3 separate regions of the Homo sapiens genome follow, and all the other regions are linked to region 1. Evidence: fine-mapped expression QTL. A gene starts in region 1. Each other region holds a variant in brackets. All regions are shown on one strand. Distances are between the middles of the regions. Region 1 holds the start of MEF2A (myocyte enhancer factor 2A). Region 2 overlaps MEF2A (myocyte enhancer factor 2A). Region 3 has its middle 39 kb from the start of LINC03080.

Region 1 (2,759 bases):
CGAAAAAATGTTAAGACAATGTTTGTTTAAAAATACATATGCTATTGTTAACACATCACAGCAGGCCTTTCTAATAGGGCATTTATTGGAATCCCAATCTCACTGTAAACTAAAACGCAGGTTAACACTATGTTATATTCAAGCTACACACGGTTCCCTGCTGGACCATAACAGGAGGCTCGCTTCACAGCTCCGGAATCTATTTCGGATGTGAGCAACAATTCTATAGTTACACTTTTAAAGAAAAACTGTTTTCTTATTCAGGATTGCTCACCTTTTCCAAACTTGTTTGCACTATCTCACTTACTTTAACCCTCACAGCTCAAAGGCATGAAATCGAGCCAAAAAGCAAAGTTTCTAACACAAAAAATATTTTCTGCGAGCTGGGATCTAGCCGGATGGCAGGGGTTCAGCCAGCGGTTCCCTGTGCAGCCCCTCTGTCCCCGCGACGTCTCCCCGCACGATCGGGCGTCCGCAACCGCAGGTGTCCGCCCCAAACACCGACCCCGCCACTGACATCTACACACTCACAGAATTCGTACCTAAGCGTTCCACCCCGTTAGACCAATCTTCTCCCAAAGCAGAAGTGGGGGAACTTCTTCAAGTCCAACAGGGCAGAAGGCCCCCCGCACTTGGGGCTAATCCCTTCGGGGAGACCCCCGGGCTTGGAGGGAAAAGGGGAAGGAAAGGGCCCTCAGAGCGCACCTTCTCCGGGGTCTCCCGAGAACTCCTTCAACTTTCAAGGAGGCGACGTCCACCACCGCCCCCCGGCCCCAAGGGGTGCGCGCCCGGGGAGGCTGCTCGCCACCAGCCCGCGCGACTGAGCTCCCCTCGGCCCGCCCAGCCGAGCCCCATCCAGCCCCACCGGCCCGCCCTCAGGGCACCCCGCCCCCACCTCCCCGGGCGCCTAGCTCCTCAGCGCCGACCCCGACCCGACCACCCCTCGCCGCCTCCCAGCACCCTACCCGCCTCCCAGCACCCTACCCGCCCCGCCAATGCGCGAACGCGACCCTGGCCCCCTCCAAGCCGGACACGGCCTCGTCCAGGGGTCCCCGGAGCCCCCCGGGCGACCCTCTCGGCCGCGCCGTCCCCCGCCCCAGCACCTCCACCCCAACCCCTACTCGGTCCCCTAAGCGAGACGCCGCCCCCCTCCAGCACTACCGGCGTCGCGGACTGAGCCCCGCTGCCCGCGGCCCTCACCGTATCTCCGGAGCAGCTGGCGGGCGCGCACACGCCGCAGCCCGGGCCCGCCACCAGCGCTTCGCGCCGCCCGGAGCCGCCTCTTTCAGCCCGGGACTCGCCGGGACATCCGCGCACGGATCCCCACACCGGGGCTATTTTTAGGAGACAAGCCTCGGCCAGACCGGAACTCGTTCTGTGCTGCGCGTGCGCACTACCTCCGCCGCCTCGGTGTCCCTCCGCAGCCCTGCCTCCCCTCCCTCCTGGGTTCCCTTCCTCGCTTCTCCCCATCAGTTTCTTTTCAGGACTGAATTATCCTCTCGGTGGGTTCTAGAGTAATTGGAATGGGAAAGACAAGGGTAGGGCAAAGAGAGTCACGGTGCTTGGAAGCGGGCGCTATTCCACAAGGACGTGGGGGCGGACTATGTTTTTCCGGGTGGGTGAGGAGACGATCACCTGGCACAGGAAGAAGATGACGGCGGCTTGGCGCCGGGGCCGCGGGTTGGAGCTCGCTTTCCTCTGAAGGACCGTGTTCCCCTGGAAGGGATACTGGTCACTTGATGAGGGCCCGGGCGCCTCCCAGGGCGGGGCGGCCCGGCGGCGTCGCGCCCTGCCGCCCCCGCTCCGCCGCTCAGCCGCCGCCACCTCCCTGACCAGCCCCCGGGAGCCCAGGCCGGGAGCGGCCCGGTGACGCGGCGCGTGGCAAATCGCCGCGCGTGGCCTCCAGGGCAGCCAACCCGGGCGGTGGGGCGGCGCGGCGCGACGGGACTGGGCGGGGCTCCCGGGGCGGGGGCGGGGCGCGAGGCCGGCTGCCGCCCGGAGTCCGGGGCCGGGCGGGTCCTTCGGGACGCCCGGGTCAGCCTCCTCCCTCCCTCCCTCGAGGCGCCCTTGGCCTCCCCGGGTGTCGGCTCGCCACGCCCGCATTGTGGCCAGGGCCGCACCTGTGCTCGCCCCGGGGCACGGGCAGGTCACCCTCAGGAGCAAGCACAAGGGGACTCTGGGACCCGGGCCCGGAGAGAAAGGGACTTGAAGGGGTCTCGAGGGCGAGAAGGCCCTTTCGGACTGGACAGCCGAGCTCCCCAGGTCCCAGGACAGTAGCAACCTCCTTATCGTGACTTAATAGTTTCTAGGATGCCTGGGGCGGTGAACTATGTGATGGACATTTTGCATATGACAGCTTATGTAATACTTACAAGGCCCCATGAAGCAGATTCAGTTTCTATTCCCATTTTACAGATGAGGAAAGGGAAGCTGAGCGCTAAAGTGACCTGTCAGGGTCACAGCTTCAGAGTAGGGCCCTGAGGACTTGAACTCCTGACCACTCTGCATGTTGCCTTTTCTGAGATAGGTGCAAAGGGGATAGGCTTGGGACAGCTGTTGTGTTTTCTGGGGCTACTGATTATGTTTATCGAGGTCTTTAGGAGATGAGCCATTGTTGGCCCTCTCATCCTGAAAGCCGCTCACCTCTGAAGAGTTTTTCGGGGCCACAGTGCCTGCATGTGCCCCCAGAGGTGCCTGTGTAATGGACACGAAGCCAAATGGTTGTTTGCATTTGAAGATGAGAAATTCAATCCCGCAGC
Region 2 (2,759 bases), 49 kb before region 1:
AAGATGCATTATAATATGTTACCTCATTGACTTAATTTCCATTTGTCTTCTCAAAACTAAGGAAGAAACAGAAGAAATTTTAAAGGACAGAGTGATTACAGCAAGATCAAGATGCAGTCCTATACAAATGCTAACAATTAACTATTGACAAAAAAAACCCAGTCATCAATATTGTAATTTTGTCTAACCTATTCGCAGATATTATAAAATGGATACACATTTCCTAGAAAATATTTTCTCATTTTATCTTTTCTAAAATAATTTTAATAAAGTCTTTACTTTGTATACACGTAAAATACCTATTATTTATTTTTAAGTATCTCAATTTTCTCAGCTGTTTGTTCTCTAAATTCAATCTATAATTTTAAACATTGAGATCTAATTTTTTTTTAAGAACTAGTCTGACTGTGGCTTGATATATGGGAACCACTAAATCTAATTGTGTTCCCCAGCGAAATTTTCTTATTTTTAAGTCAACACAGTTTTTATTTTTAAGTAGTATAACACAGAAGAGTCCATTTTGAATCCAAGTTCCACTAAATAGCTATTAGTGATCTTGACCAAGTCACTTACTTGCTCAGCCACAGTTTCTTCATTTTTAAAATGAGGCAAAAACCATACTTCACAGGCCATGTGAATGTTGATGTAAATAAGAGACTGTATCAAATCACCTATAGTACAACGTGTAGTATACACAGGTCTTCCATAAAAGTTCACTAATAAATGGTCCCTCAGTCATTCTGTTTGGTTTGTCTGGTTGGTTCAAATTTCACAGAGAAGTGGCATACGGTAGTGGTTAACATGGTTAACAGGACAGGGTCTGCAGCATGCCCGCCTGCATTCAAACCTCAGCTCCACCTCTTACTACATGGGTTGCCTTGAGAAGTTACTCAATTTCTCTAAGCTTCAGATGCCAAATCTTTAAAATACTGGACTAATAATAAAGCTCATAAACTTGTAAAGATTAAGAGATAACACATATGAAGTATTTGGCCTAGTAATCTGCACATGTGCTCAATGTTGGCCATTATTATTACCGTTACTTAATATTAAAAACTGTAAAATAATGCAATACCCATTACTTAAGTGATAATCATTACTTAATATTAAAAACTGTAAAATAATGAGTATAAAAATACTCACAACACATGCACTCAAGTTGCTGTTAAGTCTGCATAAAAGACAAATACCAGAAACTCAGCTTATCAGCCTACTGCAAAGGCCTCAGCCAGAGCTACCTCACTAGCCTAACTGGCTATATCCAACCACATTCTCAACTACTCAACTTAAGATACCCTACAGGTATCTCAAAACCCAACATTTTCTTAAACCAAACACACCAAGCCTGTTCCTTTTCTGTACCAGCCACTGTTCACCTTTACCCTAAGCATTGCAA[C/T]AGCCCCCTAACTGGTCTCAGCAGGCACTTTTATTTCCCTCCAGTGCAATTTCCTCATTTTCATTACAGCAACCTTTTAACGTGCCAATATAATCATGTCACTTATCACTGTTCTTAAAAGCCCAAGCCTTTAACATGGCCTGTAAGGCTCTGCCTTATCCTGTCACTCCTCTACTCATGGAACTCCTCATTCCATGCCACACTTCCTCTTGCCCAGCAAGCTTCTTGACACAAGCTGTTATGTACTTAGAAAGCTCCTAACTCCTTTCTGTTTCAGGGCTTTCATACATACTACCACCTTGCTCTCTCTCAGTAGCTCTTATCCCAAGCCCTTCTCCTTACTGACAGTCCTACCCATCCTTTGTGTCTCAGTATTACCATTATTTCCTCAAGGAAATGTTCCCTAACATCCAAACTATGTTAGGATTTCTAATGCACTTTCCTAACAGACTGTACTTCTCTCTTATGGCATTTACCTCAACTGTAATTACTTCCTTATACAATTAAATGTTTGATTTCTTTTCCCCCAACCAAACTGTAACCAAGGGAGAAGATCAAGTCTGTTGTATTTACTCCTATAACCTCAGCTGCTACCATAGTTGCTTAACAAATGAAAGCAAAAGTCAAAGTATGAGATTTCACAATCCCAGGCTATTGGACATTCTCTAAGAACCAATTTTTTGGAGTTATAAGTTATTGTTGGGCTTGGCGCGGTGACTCACGCCTGTGATCCCAGCACTTTGGGACGGTGAGGTGAGGGATCACTTGAGCTCAGAAGTTCAAGACCAGCCTGAGCAACATAGTGAGACCTCATCTCCAAAAAAAAAGAAGTTATTCTTCACTGAACTGCAGAAGGGAAGGTAACTTAATATTTATTAAATATCTTCTACATTTATCAGTAGCTGTGTTAGACCTTAATATATATTATCTCATGTAACAGTAACAATAACCCTGTGAGGTAGATGGCATCTGTTCCACTTTCTAAATGAAGCAACTGCGAGTAAAAACAATCAGTACTCACCCAAAGTCACACTAGGAGGCAGAGTTGAAATTTTGGCCCTAATATCATGTCTTTTTCCATAACAGTACATTATCACCACCGGAACTATTTAAATAGTGGTTAAAAATGCCACTGATGTGATAAAACCTTCAAGGAGCCATCTAACCCCAATTTCATGAGTTTATGGTACTTTTCAGTAGTAGAATATTAAAACAATTTCTACTAAGTTGTGTATGGCTGCACAAGGGAAACTAGAGCATGTGGAAGGACCACTACATGTCAATACGTTCCCCGTTAAAAGGCAATTTATCTGATGCTACCATGGGCTGTCAAAATACAAATGCCTTGAGCACTTATCAGCTA
Region 3 (2,759 bases), 91 kb after region 1:
CGGTGCCCCTAGGTAATGCTATCTGGGGTGGGGAGGGAGGGGAAGTAGAGAGTGATTGACAGTAGAGGTGAGGCACTCCTTGTGGAGGTGGTGGGGCAAGGGAAGGGGACCTCCGGACAGGGGGTCTGAACCCTCCTTCCACCACTCTCCAGCTCTGTGGCTTTGGACAAGTGACTCGCCCTCTCTGAGCCTCTGTTTCTTCATGCACTCATTCATTTCCTGGGTATCGCGTCTGTGCCAGGGCTAGGCCACCCCATTGGCGCTTAGGTTCTAGACATTACACAGTCAACACAGCCCTGTGCCTCTAGAGCACGTCCAGTGGTGGGTGAAAACCAAGCAGAGGACAGAGTTTGGTTCAGGCCAGAACCACACGGCCGTCAGTGAGCTAGGCCAGGGCTGGGCAGACGAGGGGTCCAGCACAGAAGACTGAAGAGGTGCAGCCAGGGAGGCAGGAGGGACCCAGGGAGAGTGACAAGAAAGGGGAGAATGCACACCCCACACAGTGGGAGCTCAGGACATGTCGCTGCTGCTGTTATTATTTGATCGCTGTCAGTGGGCGTGGCAGTATGCTTGGGGCGAGGATGCTGAAGGGAAGGGAAAAGAAGAGCTGGAGGAGGGTGGCTTCGCAGCCAGGGTAAATAGCACAGCCAGATGGCTGCCATCATTTCCCGCCACTCCAGTCGCCCTCCTGCCTCCAAGTCACAGGCAGGCTTCACTTTGCGCCATGACCCGAAGGTCAGCAGGCTGGGGTTTCACAAGTGGGCGTTCCAGGTCCGGGGCCCGCACAGGGAGCACTCCGTCCATGGTCAGGCCTCCAAGTTCCCATCCAGGAGCAGCTGCCGGAGCTCTGGCCCATCCCAGGGGGCCCCAGCTGCTGTCAGCCTGGAGTGGGTCAGAGTGTGGGGGTGAGAGAGGCAGGCCCACCGGGGACAGGGGCAGCTGTCCTTGCCCTAAGGATCTGAGTCACACTCGGGCCAGGGAGCCACGGCCAGGGGCACTCCAGGCTCTGCGGGGGGGGCGTGCAGAAGGTGTGGTGTGTATAGTCACACATGCATATGTCAATGTAGTGTATGCGTATACTGTACGTATATGTGATTCTTTTATCGGTATATTCATAGGTTTATTGAATTTCCATATCCTAGATAGTGGCTATCGTTTATCACCTTTTTCTAAGCAGGGAGAAACAAGACTCAGAGAAGTCCAAAGAAACTAAGCCGAGAAGCAGACAGCAGAACAAAATTTCAAGCCCCACGTTCTGCGCCTTCGGGCAACGGCCATGAAACAAGAGGTCACAGCCGCGGAATGGCTTGAGCCCCAGCTCTCATCACAGATTTCGTTATGCTCCAATGGTAGAAACAAAGGGAAGGTTTTGTGTCTCCTGTTTTTAAGGTTGAGAGAGAGCCATAGAAGGGGACAGAGCTTAAACAAGGCCCCCTCCTGCCTTTCTCCTGCGTAGGCAATGCTGGCCCAGTGGCCCCATCCACTGGGTGTCCCTGTGCCCTGGGCTCCTGGAGGAACCCTGCTGACCAGAGGAGCTCCCCGAAAAGCCCAC[A/C]CTCAGCACTTTTCACCCCCTTCCCTTCCCCTTTCACTTCCTGACACTATTTGGGGCTGTGTCTGCCTCCTCCAAGGGCACAGCGTTCCTCACTCATCTGGGCGTCCCAGGGTGCCAGGCACGATGGCCTGCGATGGGGGCTCACTCTGGTCACTCACCTTTGTATCCACAGGGAAATGGGGAAGCTCTGCAAACCCGGGCCAGGGCACAGCTTGGACAATCTGTCACCAGTGTGCAGAGTCAGCTGAGAAACACAATCCTGCCCAGGCTTTCTGTGGCTGCGGCCAAGAGGGTAGGGCTGCTGGGCTGAAGGCTGTCAAGTGACTGGGCAAAAAAAGCCAGCCTCAGCCTGCATGGCCGCAGCAGTCCATCCTGCAACAGAATAATTCCTCTTAGTGGGAACAGGCCTCCCACGCTTATCACAAAGCGCGGGCTGCCTTTCCAATGCGGCTGGAGGAGATTTACAAAAAGAAAAGGAAGTCGCCCTTACATCTTGGGGAAGTTTAAAGACACCTGGAGAATGAAATCTTGGATTTTACTTTCCTGAAAGGCTGAGGCTAGGCATAATTCTCTGCCTTTGTTCCCCTCCTTTGTCTTGGTTAAATGTTCCTGGCCATACTGTACCTGTGGTTTTATTGTCGTCCTTTTTGGGAACAAGCAGGATATAAATCAGTCAGTGAAATTTTAGAATGTAGCTCTTTGGTCTAGCATCTAAGTAGATAAAGAAGAAACGGGCACTTAATAAGTGCCTCTGGAGGCTTGTGATTTGCATGGGGCTCCCAATGAAAGGTAAAGTCTTTGCTTAGAGGTTACACACACCGAATGCAGGGTGGTCCTCAGGCCTCTGGTCACAGCATGCACAGTGCTGGTGCCTCGATCTGCAAACCTGGTGCGCGCAGCCGCTGGGGACCATCTGCCCCAAGGCCACCCCAGGACTTATCAGAAAGGAGAAGAGTTGGCCGGGCGCGGTGGCCTGGTGATCACACCTGTAATCCCAGCACTTTGGGAGGCCGAGGCCGGTGGATCACGAGGTCAGGAGTTCAAGACCAGCCTGGCCAAGAGGGTGAAACCCCGTCGCTATGAAAAACACAAAAATTAGCTGGGTGTGGTGGTGGGTGCCTGTAATCCCAGCTGCTCAGAAGGCTGAGGCAGAGAATTTCTTGAACCTGGGAGGCGGAGGTTGCAGTGAGCTGAGATCACGCCACTG

The links. PIP is the estimated chance that this variant, and not a neighbour inherited with it, causes the effect.
Region 2: its variant is fine-mapped to the expression of MEF2A in whole blood (TOPMed, PIP above 0.99).
Region 3: its variant is fine-mapped to the expression of MEF2A in monocytes (TOPMed, PIP above 0.99).

Annotation. Positions count from the first base shown.
Region 1 is chr15:99,564,546-99,567,304 of GRCh38, reverse strand. MEF2A (myocyte enhancer factor 2A) reads right to left here and starts at 1,321. Exons shown (of 12, transcript NM_001319206.4): 1 at 1,201-1,321. RefSeq lists silencers at 821-870, 1,711-2,150 and enhancers at 50-1,023, 1,024-1,999.
Region 2 is chr15:99,613,728-99,616,486 of GRCh38, reverse strand. The region is part of intron 2 of MEF2A (myocyte enhancer factor 2A); the gene reads right to left. Among named protein-coding and RNA genes, the nearest start is that of MEF2A, 49 kb to the right of the region's middle. RefSeq lists an enhancer at 1,284-1,333. The variant C/T (reference allele first, on the strand shown) is at 1,397.
Region 3 is chr15:99,473,226-99,475,984 of GRCh38, reverse strand. No RefSeq gene overlaps it. Among named protein-coding and RNA genes, the nearest start is that of LINC03080, 39 kb to the right of the region's middle. RefSeq lists a silencer at 587-881 and enhancers at 309-984, 985-1,661. The variant A/C (reference allele first, on the strand shown) is at 1,553.